2 separate regions of the Homo sapiens genome follow, and region 2 is linked to region 1. Evidence: fine-mapped expression QTL. Tissue or cell type: unexposed skin. Region 1 holds a variant in brackets; the other region holds the start of a gene. All regions are shown on one strand. Distances are between the middles of the regions.

Region 1 (8,099 bases):
TGCCTGGGATCCCTGGAACCTCGAGTGCAGGCCACCTTGTGTTGACTGGCTGAATAGTGTCCAGACCAGCCCCTCCTGGCAGGCATTGGCCCAGTTTGGGAGAGGAGGAAACGGTCTCCCATGGCCTGTTAGCTGCAGAAGGAGCATGTGCACTGTTGCAGGACAGTCCAAATGTAAAACACGGTGTTTCCCCATCTCCCCCCTTGGCAGCTTGGAGCTTCCCATCAGATGCTCCTGCCCTGGAAGAGCCCCCGTGGGCAGGGAAGCCACTGCTGGGGGCAGCGTCCCTGCTGACACACTGGCTGTTGTGTATTGGGCACATGCTGCAAATTGAGTGTCGTGTGTCTCGCCCCTGACTCCTGCAGTCCACTCCGACAGTCTTTTTGGAGACTGAGTTTCTTTCACCCAGGCTGGAGTGCAGTGGCATAATCGCAGCTCACTGCAACCTCTGCCTCCTGGGTTCAAGCGATTCTCCTGCCTCAGCCTCCTGAGTAGCTGGGATTACAGGTGTCCACCACATGCCTGGCTAATTTTTGTATTTTTAGTAGAGATGGGGTTTCACCATGTTGTCCAGGCTGGTCCCGAACTCCTGACCTCGTGATCCTCCCACCTTGGCCGCCTCCCAAAGTGCTGGGATTACAGGCATGAGCCACCGCGCTCGGTCTTGTATTTTTGAGATGGAGCTTTGCTCTGTCGCCCAGGCTGGAGTGCAGTGGTGTGATCTCTGCTTACTGCAACCTCTGCCTCCTGGGTTCAAGCAATTCTGCCTCGGCCTCCTGAGTAGCTGGGATTACAGGCAAGTGCCACCACGCCCTGCTAATTTTTGTATTTTTAGTAGAGACGGGGTTTCACCATGTTGGCCAGGCTGGTCTCAAACTGACCTCAAGTGATCTGCCCGCTTCAGCCTCCCAAAGTGCTAGGATTACAGGCGTGAGCCACCACGCCCGGCCACACAGGCAGTCTTGAAGGGAAGGCTGTTTGTTTTTTATTCCTGTGTTATAGAGGGAAGTGGGGTGCAGAGAGAAAATGGCTTTGGCTGAGGGACACAGTGGGGCGGGTAGGAAGACCTGTGCCTGGAACCACAAAGATCCTAGTAACAAAGATGGCCTCCCCTGCTCCCCCAGCCTGCCCCTGGCTGAGGACAGGGAGCCCATGTGACCTGTGGCCACCCTGGAGGGGCTGTCTTGAGAGCTTCGAGAACATCCAGGAGACCTTCACCTGCCCTTCCAGGGGCAGTGTAGGTGGCCAATACAGAGCAGCCGGGGCCTGCCAGGCCTGTGGCTGGGGGATGGGAGAAGCCTCCTGAAGTCGGGGGGGCAGAGAAGGCAGGCTCCCCACGGGCGGCTCTGGAGGTTTTTTTTTTTTAATGTCCCCCAGGCTGGAGTGCAGTGTCACAATCTTGGCTCCCCGCAACCTCCTCCTCCCAGGTTCAAGTAATTCTCCTGCCTCAGCCTCCTGAATAGCTAAGATTACAGGCACAGGCCACCACACCCGGCTAATTTCTTTGTATTTTTAGTAGAGATGAGGTTTCACCATGTTGACCAGACTGGTCTTGAACTCTTGAACTCAGGTGATTCCTCCCACTACCTCAGCCTCCCGAAGTGCTAGGATTACAGGCATGAGCCACCGTGCCCGGCCTTTGGCTCTGGGGTTTTCTCACCTGCAAAGCTGCTGCCTCCTGCTATTGTCCTGCCCCGTCAAGCCAGCAGCCTTTCTGGCCAATGTCCTCCACACTAAGCGGCTCCTTAAGCTCCCAGGGAAGAGTGAAAAGGGCTGGAAGGATGGCGAATGGGGAAGGGGACTTGCCGGTTCCTACCCAGCCCTGCTTTGCCCCGAACACCTGCCCCAGCCCCACATTGAAGGGCGGGGACCTGCGGAAGCGCCACGCGGGATGGTCAAGCTGGAGGGTCTCAGGATCCAGCTTAGCTGGTGTTCACACCAGACAATAGCAATGGAGCCCACTCTCCAGACTGGGAGGACTCAGTAGGCAGGGATGCAGGGAGGAGGGAAGGGGAGACAGGAACAGCCCCTTCAAGGCTTTGGAAGGGAAATGGGGGTCGCCCCCTGCTAAAAGCATTCTGGGCACTGAAGCAGCCTGGAGGGGAGAGGACTCGGTGCCTCTAGAGAACTAAAAGATGGCCTGTTGCAGGTTGGGAGGCACATGGGAGGGCTGGAATCTCCAAAACCCTCAGCTGCCCCCACACTGGGTCCCCAGCACTCTCCCACCCACCCCCCACCCCGCCAGCATTTCCTGTGATTTTTGTTCTTTTTTTTTTTGAGACGAAGTCTCACTCTGTTGCCCAGGCTGGAGTGCGGTGGCATGATCTTGGAGCCTCTGCCTCCTGGGTTCAAGTGATTCTCTCAACTCAGCCACTCAGCCTCCCAAGTAGCTGGGATTACAGGTGCATGCCACAATGCCCCGACTAATTTTTGCATTTTTAGTAGAGACGGGGTTTCCCCATGTTGGCCTGGCTGGCCTTGAAGCCCTGGCCTCAAATGATCCACCTGCCTCAGCCTCCCAAAGTGCTGGGATTGCAGGCATGAGCCACTGCGCCTGGCCCCGTGTCTGCTATGCAGGCAATGGAGGGTTTTGTTTACTTCTACAGAGATGTGGTCTCCCAGCCTTCAGGAATGAGAGGTGCCACGTGTCTTTCTAGGGCTTTATGTAAATAACTCCAGTCCTCAGAACAACCTCGAGACAGGCACAACTCTTACCCACTTGCGCTGGTGAGGAAACTGAGGCACAGAGCCCACTTACCTTGTTTTCTTGCCTTTGGCCAGTACAGGGAGCATTTCCTCTCCTTCCCTACAGCAGTAGTGCAAGCATGGCGCCAAATGACCACTGACCTTTGCAGGGGAACACAGTGGGGAGGGATGGGGACTGGGGCCTGTTGGAGCACATCTTTGTCTAGAGGGTGTGGCCAGTGAGTCTTCAGCCTCGGGCCCAGTGTGGTCAGGTCTAAAGACTTGGCAGCAGGAGCTGGAAATCCAGACTTTGAGTAAATTGTCAGTGCCTAACTTAGAGACGTTTATAACACTGTGCAAGCCAAGTACACCCAGCTCTCTGCTGCAGGTGTCTGCTAACAGCCAGGGCTGGGGGGGTGCTTCTCCAGGTGCTATCAGGATGGTGCTGCCTGGGAGGTAACAGGAGAGAAGGGTGTCAAGCTGCCAAGATTTCCTGCAGGACCCTTAGGCAGGTGGGGCGGGAGGGGCCCAGGGCTGACCTGAAAAGCTCTGGGTGAGGGTCTAGTTAGGGTCAGAGGAGGGACCAATTCATCCACCCTAAGGCAGCCCTTGGTAGAGGTGGGCAAGTTCCCTGGGAAAAGCCCATGGGGGTGGAAGAGTGAACCTTTTGTCCCCCTTCTGGCCCTAGGGCTTTCCTCTCCCCTTTTTCCCTAGAGATGGAGCCCCAAGCCCTTGGGGTCCAGAGTCCTCTATTTCTTTTGGCTTTTCTAGACTATCTGAAAATGCAGATGAGCTCATCCATCCCTCCCCATATTTGAAGGCCTGGTCTGTGTCAGTCCCAGGCTGGTATAGGGGTCAGAGCCATGAATACAACAAGAGGTCTCTAGTGTAGTCCATAAACTCTGCACCACCATGGGCAGGTTAACGAGATGTCGTAAGATGTCCTGGGGTAGCTGGCACACCAGGGCACAGCTCTTGGATAAAAACCCACATCTGATCCAGAGACCAGCCCTGCTGCCCCAACCCTGGCTTCTGCCTCGCTTCCTTAGGATGACCCTCCTCCACTGCCCCAGCAGCTGGCAGAGGCTGGCCAGGTCCTGCCTGCTGCCCACAGAGCCCCAGGTGTTAGGAAGGGGGCTAGTTTGAGGCCCAGCTCTGCCTTCAACTCCCTGTGGGACATGGACACAGGGCTCCCTTCTCAGGTTCTACCCTGAGGATTAGAGTGTCCTAGAGTCATCATCATCCAGGAGGAGCAGGGTGGGAGCCACAGCGCCAGTTAAAGCTTAACAGCATCCCTGTACCATTAACACAGGGGTGGTCAGATGGGAATATGTGGCTTTGGGCCCTGGAGGGGACATTTCAGGCTGAGGGTCAGCCCAGGTCCACCCCTGCTGTGCCTTCTCAAAGAGGCCACACCTACAGACCCAAGGAGACCAGAGCCTCCACTTGCTGAGGCCAGCTGCCTGCCGTGCATGGCACCACCCCCACCGTGGGCCTGCCCCCTCCAGGTCCTACCAGTCCCAAGGGGGAGGCCCTCGACCTTCCTCTAGCCTGGGCCCTGGACTCTAGACCCAGCTTGTCCCAGTTGCTTAAACCAGAGCAGCATTTGGATAATCTTAAATCCATTTGGATAATCTAAGTCCATTTGGATAAGTCCAACCACTTCCTGCCACGACATAATTTAGAGATGAGGGGAAGGACAGCAACTGATGTAGCCAAGTCTCTCCCCCCACACAAGCAGGCCAGCATGGCCATAGGTATCTCAGCTCAGCCTTGTCCTCAGTTGTCACTTATCCCCTCCCCAAACAAGGAGGTCACTGCCAAGATGCATTCACACCCACCAGCCCTTTATTGGCTATTTAGTAAACGTCACTTGGCTGAACACTTTTGCATCTTTTCCCCATAGGGGTTCAAGCTGGCGGCATTTGCCATCCTACTGGGTCCGAGGGTCGGTCGGGGCAGACAGGGAAGAAAGGGTTCTGTTGCCTGGACTCTCCAGCCTCCTCTACTGGGCAAAGAATCATGCTGTTGCATGGTGACAGTGGGCCATCCACGCTGGGGCAGAGCTGGCAGCTCCAGGGCCTGGGTCTAAGGTACCATCTTCCACCATTTGAAGGCAAAGGGCACCCGGCGGATGTTGGCACAGGCACAGATGTCTCCGA[C/T]CTCTGTCAGGTAACAGTCAAAGTCATTGATGAAGGTGCACTTGAAGCCCAGGGGCTCCAGCAAGCAGCAAATCTTTTCTTCCAGGCAGCAGGTCCCCTTGATTTGGGGCCCAAAAGGCTTGGGGATCCCCAGGTTCTTGCCCATCACAATCATCCGCAACTGTTAGAAAGACAGGGTGGGTGAGGCCTGGACAGGGATCAGAGGCCTGAAAGCCAGCCGCCCACCTGCCTCTCTGCGGTCAGACCAGGCGTAGCAGGCAGGCAGCCGCCTCCTCCAGGTCAGTGAAACCCAGCTCACTTTTGCTTAGCCCTACAATGGCTGTTTCTCAACAGCCAGATAAAATCCTGCCTGGCCAAGGTCTGGGATTGTCAACTTCTCTAGTTTCTACGTTTCGATTATTCTGGCCTCTTGTCACCTGGATACAACACATGGCTGCTGCCTCCACTGAAACACTCTCCCCACCCCCGCTTTGTCAGTTGACTGCTGCGCATCTTTTGTATCTCAACTCCTCCTCAAAGCAGCTTCTTACCGTTACTCACCCCTGCCGGACCACACTGAGCTGATCAAGTTAGAAGACACCCATGTACAATTGGAGCATGCAGGGCCTGTGTCCCTAGGACCCAGGGAAGAGGTCAGCAGGTGTTTAGAGAATTGGGGCACTCAAATGCCTCAGTTCATTTTACACACCTATATAAGGGGTCAGTTGTTACATGAGAAAGTTCAGATGTGAGCCACAGTCGGCATAGGCTTGGTGAAGCCAGGACCTCTTGTACTCACAGCCCCACTCTTGACTATAACTTCTGGTTTAGAATAAGTAGGAACAGAATTTAAAAAACAAAAACAAACAAACAAAAAAACAAAACAGTTTTGCTCTTGTTGCCCAGGCTGGAGTGCAACAGGGTGATCTCCGCTCACTGCAACCTCCACCTCCCAGGTTCAAGCGATTCTCCTGCCTCAGCCTCCTGAGTAGCTGGGATGACAGGCATGCACCACTACACCTGGCTAATTTTGTATTTTTGGTAAAGACAGTTTCTCCATGTAAGGCTGGTCTCGCAGTCCTGACCTCAAGTGATCTGCCTGCCTGGGCCTCCCAAAGTGCTGGGATTACAGGTGTAAGACACCACGCCCAGCCCCAGAATGTTTTTTTTTTTTTTTGGTTTGGTTTATCAGACAAGGTCTTGGTTTGTTACCCAGGCTAGAGTGCAGTGGCTCATTGTAGCCTCCACCTCCGGGGCTCAAGAAATTGTCCTGCCTCAGCCTCCTGAGTGGCTGAGACTACAGGCATGTGGCACCACACCCAGCATTTTTTGTTTTGTTTTGTTTGTTTTTTTGGGAGACAGTCTTGCTGTTGCCCAGGCTGGAGTCCAGTGGTGCAATCTTGGCTCACTGCAACCTCTGCCTCCTGGGTTCAAGGGATCCTCCTGCTTCAGCCTCTGATTAGCTGGGATTATAGGCATGCACCACCACACCCAGCTAGTTTTTTGTATTCTTACTAGAGAGTTTCAACCATGTTTGCAGGGCTGATCTCGAACTTCAGACTTCAAGTGATCCACCCACCTCAGCCTCCCAAAGTGCTGAGATTACGGGCATGAGCCACTGCACCCTGGCCCCAGCATTTTTTTTTTCTTTTTTTTAAAGTTGCAGGGTCTCACTATGTTGCCCTAGCTGCTCTCCAACTCCTGAGTTCAAGTGATCTTCCCACCTCAGCCTCCCAACGTACTAGAACTACAGGTGAGCCACCACGACCAGCCAAGCAGAATAAATATTAGAGACGGAGTTTCAGTCTTGTTGCCCAGGCTGGAGTGCAATGGAGTGATCTAGGCTCAATGCAACCTCTGTCTCCGGGGTTCAAGCAATTCTCCTGTCTCTGCCTCCTGAGTAGCTGGGATTACAGGCATGTGCTACCACACCCAACTAATTTTGTATTTTTAGAGACAGGGTTTCTTCATGTTGGTCAGGCTGGTCTCAAACTCCTGACCTCAGGTGATCCACCTGCCTCGGCCTCCCAAAGTGTTGGGATTACAGGCATGAGCCACTGCGCCTGGCCTAGAATGTTATTTTAAGGGCTGATGTACCTCTATGTATCAGACACTGCTGCCCTGGACCCTGGAGATAGCGGACAGGAAGACCCACCCTGAGGTAGGTTGCTCAAGGCCTCGCTGCTGGCAGATGCGCGGCAACCTCGACTCTGGGTTGCATAGCACCCCATCCGAAGTGGGCCTCACAGGTTCACCCTTTTAGACTGGGGGCGCAGCTCACTGAGGCTCCTAAAGCACCTGGCCCAGGGCCTGGCCCATAGTAACTGCCTGGGGAACCTCCAAGCCTTCAGGCCCTGTACACTTGCTCTCTGGGTGGGGCGTCCCTAACCGAGATGGGGGAGAAGGGGTCTCCCTCCCATTTCCTCATAGGTACCGTTATCTGCTGTCCACCATATCTGCAGTCCAGCACAGTGAGGTGGCAGCCAGTGTTGCCTGGACAGGCCCTCCCCCACCCAGGGATGCGCAGTCGCCCCTCACCAGGTCAGGGAAGTATGGCCTCGCAAAGGACCTCTTGGGCTGCTGGTCAGAGGGGATGTTAGTCAGCTTCTCCAAGCAGAACAGCTGGGGAATCTCGATGATGTCCTGTTCCACCAGGCCCAGCTCCGTCTTCAGGATGTCACGGTTCAGGTGAATGCACTTCTGTGGGTGGGTGGGTGGGTGGGGGGGGGGGCGGGGGAGCAAGGAGAGCTCATCAGGAATTAAAACCAGTTTCCTTCCATACTGAAGGTAGGTGATGGCCTGACACCACTACCATCCCCATCACTTGCTGTGTGCCAGGAGCCTCACACTTCATACCAGCCTTACGAAATAGGCAGTTCCCTTTTCACATGGGGAAGTAGGGGCTCAGGAATGGCCTAGTCTTTAGTCCAGGATCCCATGGCTAGACAGCGTCTGGCACTTCTCAACCCAGACCAGCTGAGCCCAATACCCAGGCATCTCCCTAGGTCTTGAAATAGGCTTCAGACATAACCCAACACACCTGTCTCCCTAGGTCTTGAAATAGGCTTCAGACACATACCCAACACACCTAAGCTGTCGCCAGGGGCTGGGAGATGCTGTCTCAGCCCCATGCCTGGCTGGCACCCACCCTGCTATGCCAGGGGGGCTGTTCTTGCAAAACAGGGTACCCATGCACTGTGCGGGGCATAGAACATTCCTTGGGAACATTCCTGGGAATGTTAAGGACCCAGTGAGAGAAGCAGTTTTGCTGAC
Region 2 (8,099 bases), 37 kb before region 1:
ACGTCTACAGTCTCAGCTACTAGGGTGGCTGAGGCAGGAGAACTGTTTGACCCCAGGAGGTCGAGGCTGTAGTGAGCCAAGATGGCGCCACTACAGTCCAGCCTAGGTGACAGAGTGAGACCCAGTTTCCAAAAAAAAAAAAAGAGAAAGAATCGTTTCCATTGGTTAGCGCATCACTCCCAGGATCACTGGTTTCATTTTTATAGACACTGGATCAGAAAATTAATCTTTCAAGTACAGGTGTAGCTTTCTGTAGCCAAGTTGAATAGAATTACACTTCTGAGGCTGGGCACAGTGGCTCACGCCTGTAATCCTAGCACTTTGGGAGGCGAAGGCGGGCAAATCACGAGGTCAGAAGTTCAAGACCAGCCTGGCCAACATGGTGAAACCCCGTCTCTACTAAAAATACAAAATTAGCTAGGCGTGGTGGTATGCGCCTGTAATCCCAGCTACTTGGGAGGCTGAGGCAGGAGACTGCTTGAACCTGGGAGGTGGAGGTTGCCACCACTGCACTCCAGCCCGGGTGACAGTGCGAGACCCCACCTCAAAAGAAAAAAAAAAATGAATTATACTTCTGAGGCTGTGCACAGTGGCTCACCCCTATAATCCCGCAACTTTGGGAGGCTGAGGTGGGAGGACCACTCGAGACCAGCCTGGGCAACAGAGAGAGACCTTGTCTCTACAAAACATTAAAAAAGAAAAAAAATTTAGCCAAGTGTAGCTGTCCATGCCTGTGGTCTCAGCTACTTGGGAGGCTGAAGCGAGAGGATCGCTTGAGCAAGGAAGGTAGAGGCTGCAGTAAGCTGGGATCATACCATCACCCTTCAGCCTGGGTGCTGGAGGAGCAAGATTCTATCTAAAAAAATAAAAAAAAAAAAAAAAAAAAGAAAGAAAAAATCACACCTCACCCCTGGAAAAGAACTTAAGCGTAGCTGAATCTAACTTGCAATATGATTTTGCTGAAGATGAGGTTAAAGAGTGACGGCAGGCTGGCACTTGCAGCCACATTTCCAAAATTCTGGGTGTAAAATGCTCAGCACAGTGCCAGACACCTGTGCCTCAAAGTGTCAGAGAAATCTCAGCCACCTTCTTTCCCTTCCCCTCTCCCGGTTTTGCACCAAACCATCCTGTCCCTGGAGAATTTGCTCAATTAGAAGCGAGGTGAAATTCCAAGCACAGTTTGAAGGAGGAAGTGTCATTTTCAGCTTGCCTGTAGGTGCACCTCACTATGTAACATTTGTTACATAAGTGGCAGCATGACACGCCTAACTGATGAATGTCTGTTGCACACCCAATTCCAGCCGGGAGAGTCACGCAGGCTTTCCCTGGGAGAATAGTGGTGTGGAATTGAGGCATGGAGTTGCAAAAATTACTTTTGTCTTCTGACAAGTAGGGCCAGTTCCAGGGTGTTATACCCAAAGTGCTTTTCTACTGCAGCATAACCTCAAGAAAAACCAGTTTCAGGAGCACCACACCTAGGATCAGATGATGCAATATGATATTAGCGTCTCATTGCATCAGTGTGTCTGAGGCATGAGTCTTTTAAGCTGGCAAAAAGCATTATAAAGGGGCAGGAGAAAAAAGGAAAAGACTTGCAGACTGAAATCTAAAGGTACTGTCAGTGGTGTTCCTAATTGGCCACACAGGGTGTTTAGAGGATAAACACCCAGCCACCCGCCTCGGCTGACAAGCATCAGCATGCCATTTCCTGAAGGGGACTTGATGGCATATTTAGGCGAAATTCTTTTCTGGTTGGTTCTACTTATGCTTTATATCAAAGCGTCAAAGTTTAACCTCTAAAAAATCTTTTTAAATGCAGGTCTATTAAGAATAGGCTTTCAAAGGGTGCTTCTATTCCATCTTGACTTTTCTGAAAATCTCTGAAACGTACCAGTTGATTTCTCATTTCCAAAGTTCTTTTACATAAGCACTCTCAGCTCTCTTGACACACAGACTTTTGACTTTGATCAAATACCTTAGATTTGGGCCTCTTGGTTTCTCTGTCTTCCTTTACAGGACACTTGATGCTTCCCAGTCCTGTTTCTTGCACTAACAATGAATGAATGAATCACAAAAATCCTAGAACTTTATGCGTTTTCAAGAAGTTGCCTGAAGAAGGAACTTCCTTGTGCGGTACGCCTCAGGAAAAAAGAAGCAGGAGAAAAGCTTTGAGAGGAGAGCAAGTGACGGTGAGATCGTAATGGAAGTGGGGTGGAGAGGTGGAGGGTGGAGACCGGTAGGAAGCAAGCAAGGCTTTTTTCACCCGTCCCAGGACACGCGAACGAGATCAAGCCTCACTGCGGTTCACTAGGGTCTATGCAGGCCCTCGCACCCCTGCCTACCTCCTCAGAACCCAGCCTCTTGGCTCTTCTCACCCCAGCCCCACCAGACAGCTTCCCTCCCAGGAGGTGTCTCTCAAGATCTCGAAATGTGGAGCGTCCCGTTCACTCCACCTGGCCTGGAATACTTTTCCTGCCCCCTTTCATCGGGTCTTATTCATCCTTTAAGTTGTTCAGCATAACTTTCCACCTGAATGCCTTCCCTGGCCCTGGACTAGGATAAATCCCCTCGCCATAATGTTCCTACACAGGCATCACTTTGTAAAGCTTACCACTGTTGTAATTACTTGTTTACTGATCTGTCTTTCCGTTAGGCTGTGCGTTCCACTGGGGTGGAAACCTTGTTCACTGGCTCTGCAGCCCCGGGCACTGTGGGTCTTGCATGTACCGGGGGCTCAGTAAATATTTGGCAAAAAATGAAAAAGTTCCCCTCAAAGCCAGCTTCCAGTGCCTCCACGGCCCTCAAATTAATTATGAATTAATTCACTAATACAGCAAACCTTTATGTGATTCTTCCGTGTCACAGCACCTTGTTACATACTGAGGACACATCCACAGGCAAATAAAACTCAGCTTCTCTCTGCACAGGAAAAAATTATTCAAATTGTATTCATCTTTCATTCCAATCACTCAATTAGGGCACGTCCCTTGTTGGCTGCTGCGTGAGCGAAGTAACTATTTTCCAGCGAGTGTCCTCATGTGACCTGTCTAGACGTGCCCAGGAAAAACAATCCAACATCCTCCTAAGCCGCAAAGAAGTCCCTGACGCGCAGGCCGCACTGCGTGGAAGGCCCAAAGCGCGCTCGCGGGCCCGCGAAAGGCGCAGGAGCAGCGGAGCCGAGGCGGGCGGCGAGGCGCGCGGCGCGCGGCGCAGGCTCGGGTGGGCAGGGCAGGGCCAGGCCGGGCGGGGCGGGGGCGCCGGCAACGGGTCCGCCGGCCGGCAGGGGGCGCGCGCGCCCCGCGCCCCGCGCCTCCCGCCCCGCCGCGCGCTCGCTTGCCGCGCGGCCGCACATGTGTTTCTGTTTTGTGTTGTAGCATTTGTTCTGGAAGCTCGTATTTACATTTTAAGTGTATCTGGTGAGTGGGCTGGAGCCCTCGTCTGGGCCGGAAAAAAAAAAGCCCTCCGATCCGTCTTTTAGTTGCTTCTCTTCCTTTTTTCTCTCCGGTTTCTCATCACTCCAACCAGGTAGGGTCTGAAAATCGACAGTGATCAGTTTGTGGGGTCTGGGAAAGTTTTTTTTTTTTTCCTTTTTTTAAAGAGAAAAGGTTAAAAAAAAACCTGGGGGAGGGGGGCTGGGTGATTGAAGGAATAAAAAGAGGAAGGAAGGCGGATCCACGTGGTTTAATCGGAGACAGACAGAGATCCCATTGTTCAAAATCAATTAAAAAAAAAAAAAAAAGCAGACAGGGGAGAGCGCAGGGACGCCGGGGAGCTGGCGGCGGCCCTGGACACTTTGCAGTCGAATCGGAGACCGGCCGGGCCGCACGGCCGGCAAGGGGGCTGGGAGAGAGTTGGGCACCATTAAAGTTTTTATTTTTCGTGTCTGTGCGAGCAGGTGTTTGGGGCTGGGGTCCAGCTTTCTTCGGGCTCTTCCCCCGTCGCCGGGGGCAGTCCGCCGTAGGGATTCGGCTAACTAGAGCCCGAGGTCGGCACCCCTGAGCTGGGGCCGAACGGGGGTCCAGGGCTGATGCGGGGTGGGGGAGAGCGTTGCATTAAATGCCATGAGTGGGTTTGGGGGGAGACTGCGGAGACAAAAGCAGCAGGTGGGGTAGCCGGGGAGCAGGGGCTCCCTTACCACCCAGGTGCCAAGGGGGAATCCTGGAAGTGTCCCGAAGCCTTCTTTAATGAAAATCTAGGGGACTGGAGGCTGGTTTTACTTTCCCTTTACTTTTGGGGGGCGAGGTTGCAACTGTGATGCTTTGTGGGCAAACCTAACTTACGGATAGGCCGGGGGTCTCAATTCTCCCTCCAGGGGATTGCCTCTGGGGCTCCCGGCTGCCCTGCGGGATTCCCCGAAGGAGCCGCGCCGGGGCCAGGGAGGGGCGCGATTTCCTCTCCCAACTCGCCCCCTCTCCGCCCACCCTGCGGCCGCCACTTTGGGGAGGGCAGAGGAGGAAGTGGAGGCCGGGTGGCTCGTCTCCGCTCCCCTCCCCCCGCGCAGTTTATAACCCGTCCATTGTGCGCCGCTGCCCCGTGTCTCCCTCCAGCCGCGACCATGCCCAGGAAGAAGGCGGCGGCGGCGGCCTGGGAGGAGCCGAGCTCGGGCAACGGCACTGCCCGCGCCGGGCCCAGGAAACGCGGCGGCCCGGCGGGCAGGAAGCGCGAGCGGCCCGAGCGCTGCAGTAGCAGCAGCGGCGGCGGCAGCAGCGGCGACGAGGACGGCCTGGAGCTCGACGGGGCCCCCGGCGGGGGCAAGCGCGCGGCGCGGCCGGCGACAGCAGGCAAGGCGGGCGGCGCGGCCGTGGTCATCACCGAACCCGAGCACACCAAGGAGCGCGTCGTGAGTGAGGGTCAGGGTAGACGGGTGGGCGCAGGGCCGGGGCCGGCGGGCTCAGCGACGCGGCACGGCGCGCGTTCCAGCCGGGGGCCGCCTCGCGTCACGCTCCCTCCCGGCGGCCGGGCCGGCGCAGGCCGCGGGCTGAATCATTGCCTCCGCCTCCGCGCAACAAAAGGGCTCGGTACGGGGCGCGCGGCCCGCGGCCTACCCGACCCCGGGCACCGCGCGGGCGGTTGGCGGTTGGGGCGCGCGCCCGGGCCCGCGGCGGGGGAGGGGCGGCCGAAGCCCGCACGAGGGGGTCATGGCCCCGCCCCCACAGCTCCCTCTGCGCCCCTCCCCCCCCGCCCCGGGAAAGGGGACCTCGGTAAGTTCGCCCGGCCTGGAAGAGGGGGCGGCCAGCGGGCCCCACACGTCCGTGGCCGCCGCTGCGCCCGGGCGCCGCGGGGAGGGGGCGGCCGGCGCTCTGCGGGGAGCGGCCGTTTGCGCCGGGGCTTTGAGGTTCCCGCCGCCTCGGCTCCGGCGCCCGGGGGGGGCGGGGCCTGACGGCCGCCGCGCATGCTCCGCAGAGCCCTCCCCCGAGGTCGGGGAAGCCCCCCGGCTGAGCGGTGCTCGGGCTTTGTTTGCCGCCGGTGGTCCGAAGCTGCAGGATGCTCGCGAGGGCTCTGTTGTAGCCCCCCCAAGTGAAGAAGCATCTCCTAGGGTCCTGGGCGGGCTTCTGTTTTCTCAAATCTTAATTAAGGTCGTGGCTGACTCAAGTTAACGTTCCCGAAAAAGCCTGCAGAGCCGGAGATCTGAACCCGGCATCTGCCGCCACAGCATCTCCCCACCCCCACAGAACTTTCTTTAAGTTTGGTGTGGTGTGGGATATGTTTTTCAGAAGAGGGTCTAAGTTTTCACCAGATTCTCAGATAACCCCCAGAGAGCAAGAACTTCCACCTGGGGTGTAGAGCCTGACACCCGGAGAGGTTTTTTTCCTTCCATAAGTGCCCATCTCCTAAGGGTGTTTAAGGGTTAACAGCAGAGTGCTTTCCTCCAGAGAAGCGCAGGCAGTGTCTAATAACACATTTTCTACGTCCGTTTTATAGATAGGGAAACTGGGGCACAGAATTCGAGGGCCTTGTCCAAAGTCATGGATGGAACTGGATCTCCAAATGCTGTAACTCCTGATGTCCCTGCAAATTGCACATGGGAATATGCTTTGTAAAAGTGCCTTCTGGGTGAAAGGGTTAACATGTTAGGCAGTGGAGGAGAGCCCGTCAAAAGCTGTCAAAAGGTCTTGCCCGGGGTCTTGGATCAGGCTAGACTAGACAATGGCCAAAGTATTGAGAAACTGGAACACAGGAACTGTTTTCCTTTGACGTCTAGTCTGCTGTGCCAGACTCCAGACATTTGCCCTCCGAACACAGTATGTTAGGATGAAACTAAAAAGAAAGGCCAGGTGAGCTTCCGCGTCTCCTGTATCCTATTTTGAGTGAGTTTCCAAAAGCAAGATTGTGTTTAGACATCCAAGACTGCAGTTATCAGCTGTACAGCTCCAGACTGTTGGAACGCTGAATTTTGCCATCAGAGCAAAAGATCCTTACCCCATGCTGAGATTGACCCAAGGAGGTAGAGACAGGGAGTGTGTGAGGGACACTGGCTCTCCCTGGCCCACCTCTGTCTCCAGCTGTGCTGCTTGAAGCTGCTTTGTCAATGGAAATGGCACATTTGTTAGTCTTTTTTTTTTGAGGCAGAGTCTCCCTCTATGGCCAGGCTGGAGTGCAGTGGCACGATCTCAGCTCACTGCAACCTCCGCCTCTCAGGTTCAAGTGATTTTTGTGTGCTGATCAGCCTCTCGAGCAGCTGGGATTACAAGTGTGTTCCACCACACCCGAATAATTTTTGTACTTTTTGTAGAGGCTGGGTTTTACCATGTTGGCCAGGCTGGTCTCAAACTGCTGGCCTCAAGTGATCTGCCTGCCTCAGCCTCCTTCCAAAGTGCTGGGATGACAGGCGCGAGCCCTGTGTTGGGTTGCATGTTTGTAAGTCTTAATGTGAGTAAACAGCAGTCCATTGCAGCTTTTAAGTTCCTGTTTATACACATAAATACGTTATTATTTTACATATGTGTATAAGCAGGACTCTAAAAGCTACATCTTCCTTTCTCTATCCACTTAAAACCAACAGGGGCCCATGATGCCCATCCTTTGGGCTGTCGGTGCTGTTCTAGAATCAGAGCACCTGGGAGGCTGAGGGTTCAGCATATGATGCCCCTTTATGCCTCATGGAAAGTGCACACCCTACATTTAAGTTTTGCTTTTTTTTTTTTTTTTTTGAGCTGGAGTTTAGCTGTTGTTGCCCAGGTTGGAGTGCAATGTTGCGATCTCAGCTCACTGCAATCTCCGCCTCCCGGGTTCAAGCAATTCTTCTGCCTCAGCCTCCCGAGTAGCTGGGATTATAGACGCCCACCACCACACCTGGCTAATTTTTTGTATTTTTAGTAGAGACGGGGTTTCACCACGTTGGCCAGGCTGGTCTCGAACTCCTGATCTCAGGTGGTCCACCCACCTTGGCCTCCCAAAGTGCCCCACGTTTAAGTTTTGTTAGCATCTACTGAGTTTGGTCCATGTTCGGGGCTGGGTCCATGCAGCCCCATTGCCTTTCCATAGGCCTAGGGCAGCCCTCTGCCCCTTGTCCTGGGTTGGCCTCCTGCCCAGTCTCCCTGGCCCCAGGTTTCTGGTCTCTGTTTCTCTGTTGAGCAGTCCTAGGGACCCTGTGTGCTGCCACAGGCAGACAGCAGTCCTTGTTGCAGAAAGAACCTTTTTTACTGAGCATTTTGCATGCCTTGCCCCGCTCAGGGTTGCTAGGAGGAGGTCTGTGTGAAAGCAGCCGCCCAGGAAATGTCCAAAACCATATTGCCTTCAGTGACCCCAAAGCTGCAGGTGTCGGGCTTGTAGAAGATGAGCCAAATACTTACATTGTTGAGGGGCAGAATTGCCTTGAGTAAAAGATGTGCATTTTATAGAACATTCTTATGGCAGATGAGCGTTGTCATTGCCTAGGTGTTAAGAAAAAATTCAAATTCTTTTTTCCTCCGCTCTCACGGCCACACTCAACAACCAACACCAGACTTCTTCCGCACCCCCCACCCCAGATGGAGTCTTGCTCTGTCTCCCAGGCTGGAGTGCAGTGGTGTGATCTCAGCTCACTGCAGCCTCCACCTCCTGGGTTCAAGCAACTCTCCTGCCTCAGCCTCCTGAGTAGCTGAGATGACAGGCACCTG

Which allele goes with the higher level. Positions count from the first base shown, and alleles are read on the strand shown. Sizes are in standard deviations (SD) of each study's normalised expression.
In carriers of allele C in region 1, the expression in unexposed skin of the gene that starts at base 3,393 in region 2 tends to be lower than with T alone (large effect, 0.75 SD a copy in GTEx).

Evidence for each region. PIP is the estimated chance that this variant, and not a neighbour inherited with it, causes the effect.
Region 2: RCC2 starts here. The variant in region 1 is fine-mapped to the expression of RCC2 in unexposed skin (GTEx, PIP 0.94).

The regions. Positions count from the first base shown.
Region 1 is chr1:17,398,113-17,406,211 of GRCh38, reverse strand. It overlaps PADI6 (peptidyl arginine deiminase 6), which reads right to left. Exons shown (of 16, transcript NM_207421.4): 15 at 7,365-7,526; 16 at 4,513-5,007. The coding sequence ends at 4,774. Among named protein-coding and RNA genes, the nearest start is that of PADI6, 30 kb to the right of the region's middle. RefSeq lists an enhancer at 4,441-5,377. The variant C/T (reference allele first, on the strand shown) is at 4,848.
Region 2 is chr1:17,434,971-17,443,069 of GRCh38, reverse strand. It overlaps RCC2 (regulator of chromosome condensation 2), which reads left to right and starts at 3,393. Exons shown (of 13, transcript NM_018715.4): 1 at 3,393-3,525; 2 at 4,548-4,840. The coding sequence starts at 4,556. LOC124903862 (a long non-coding RNA gene) reads left to right here and starts at 1,527. Exons shown (of 2, transcript XR_007065508.1): 1 at 1,527-1,612; 2 at 2,017-2,934. RefSeq lists silencers at 3,154-3,293, 4,613-4,712.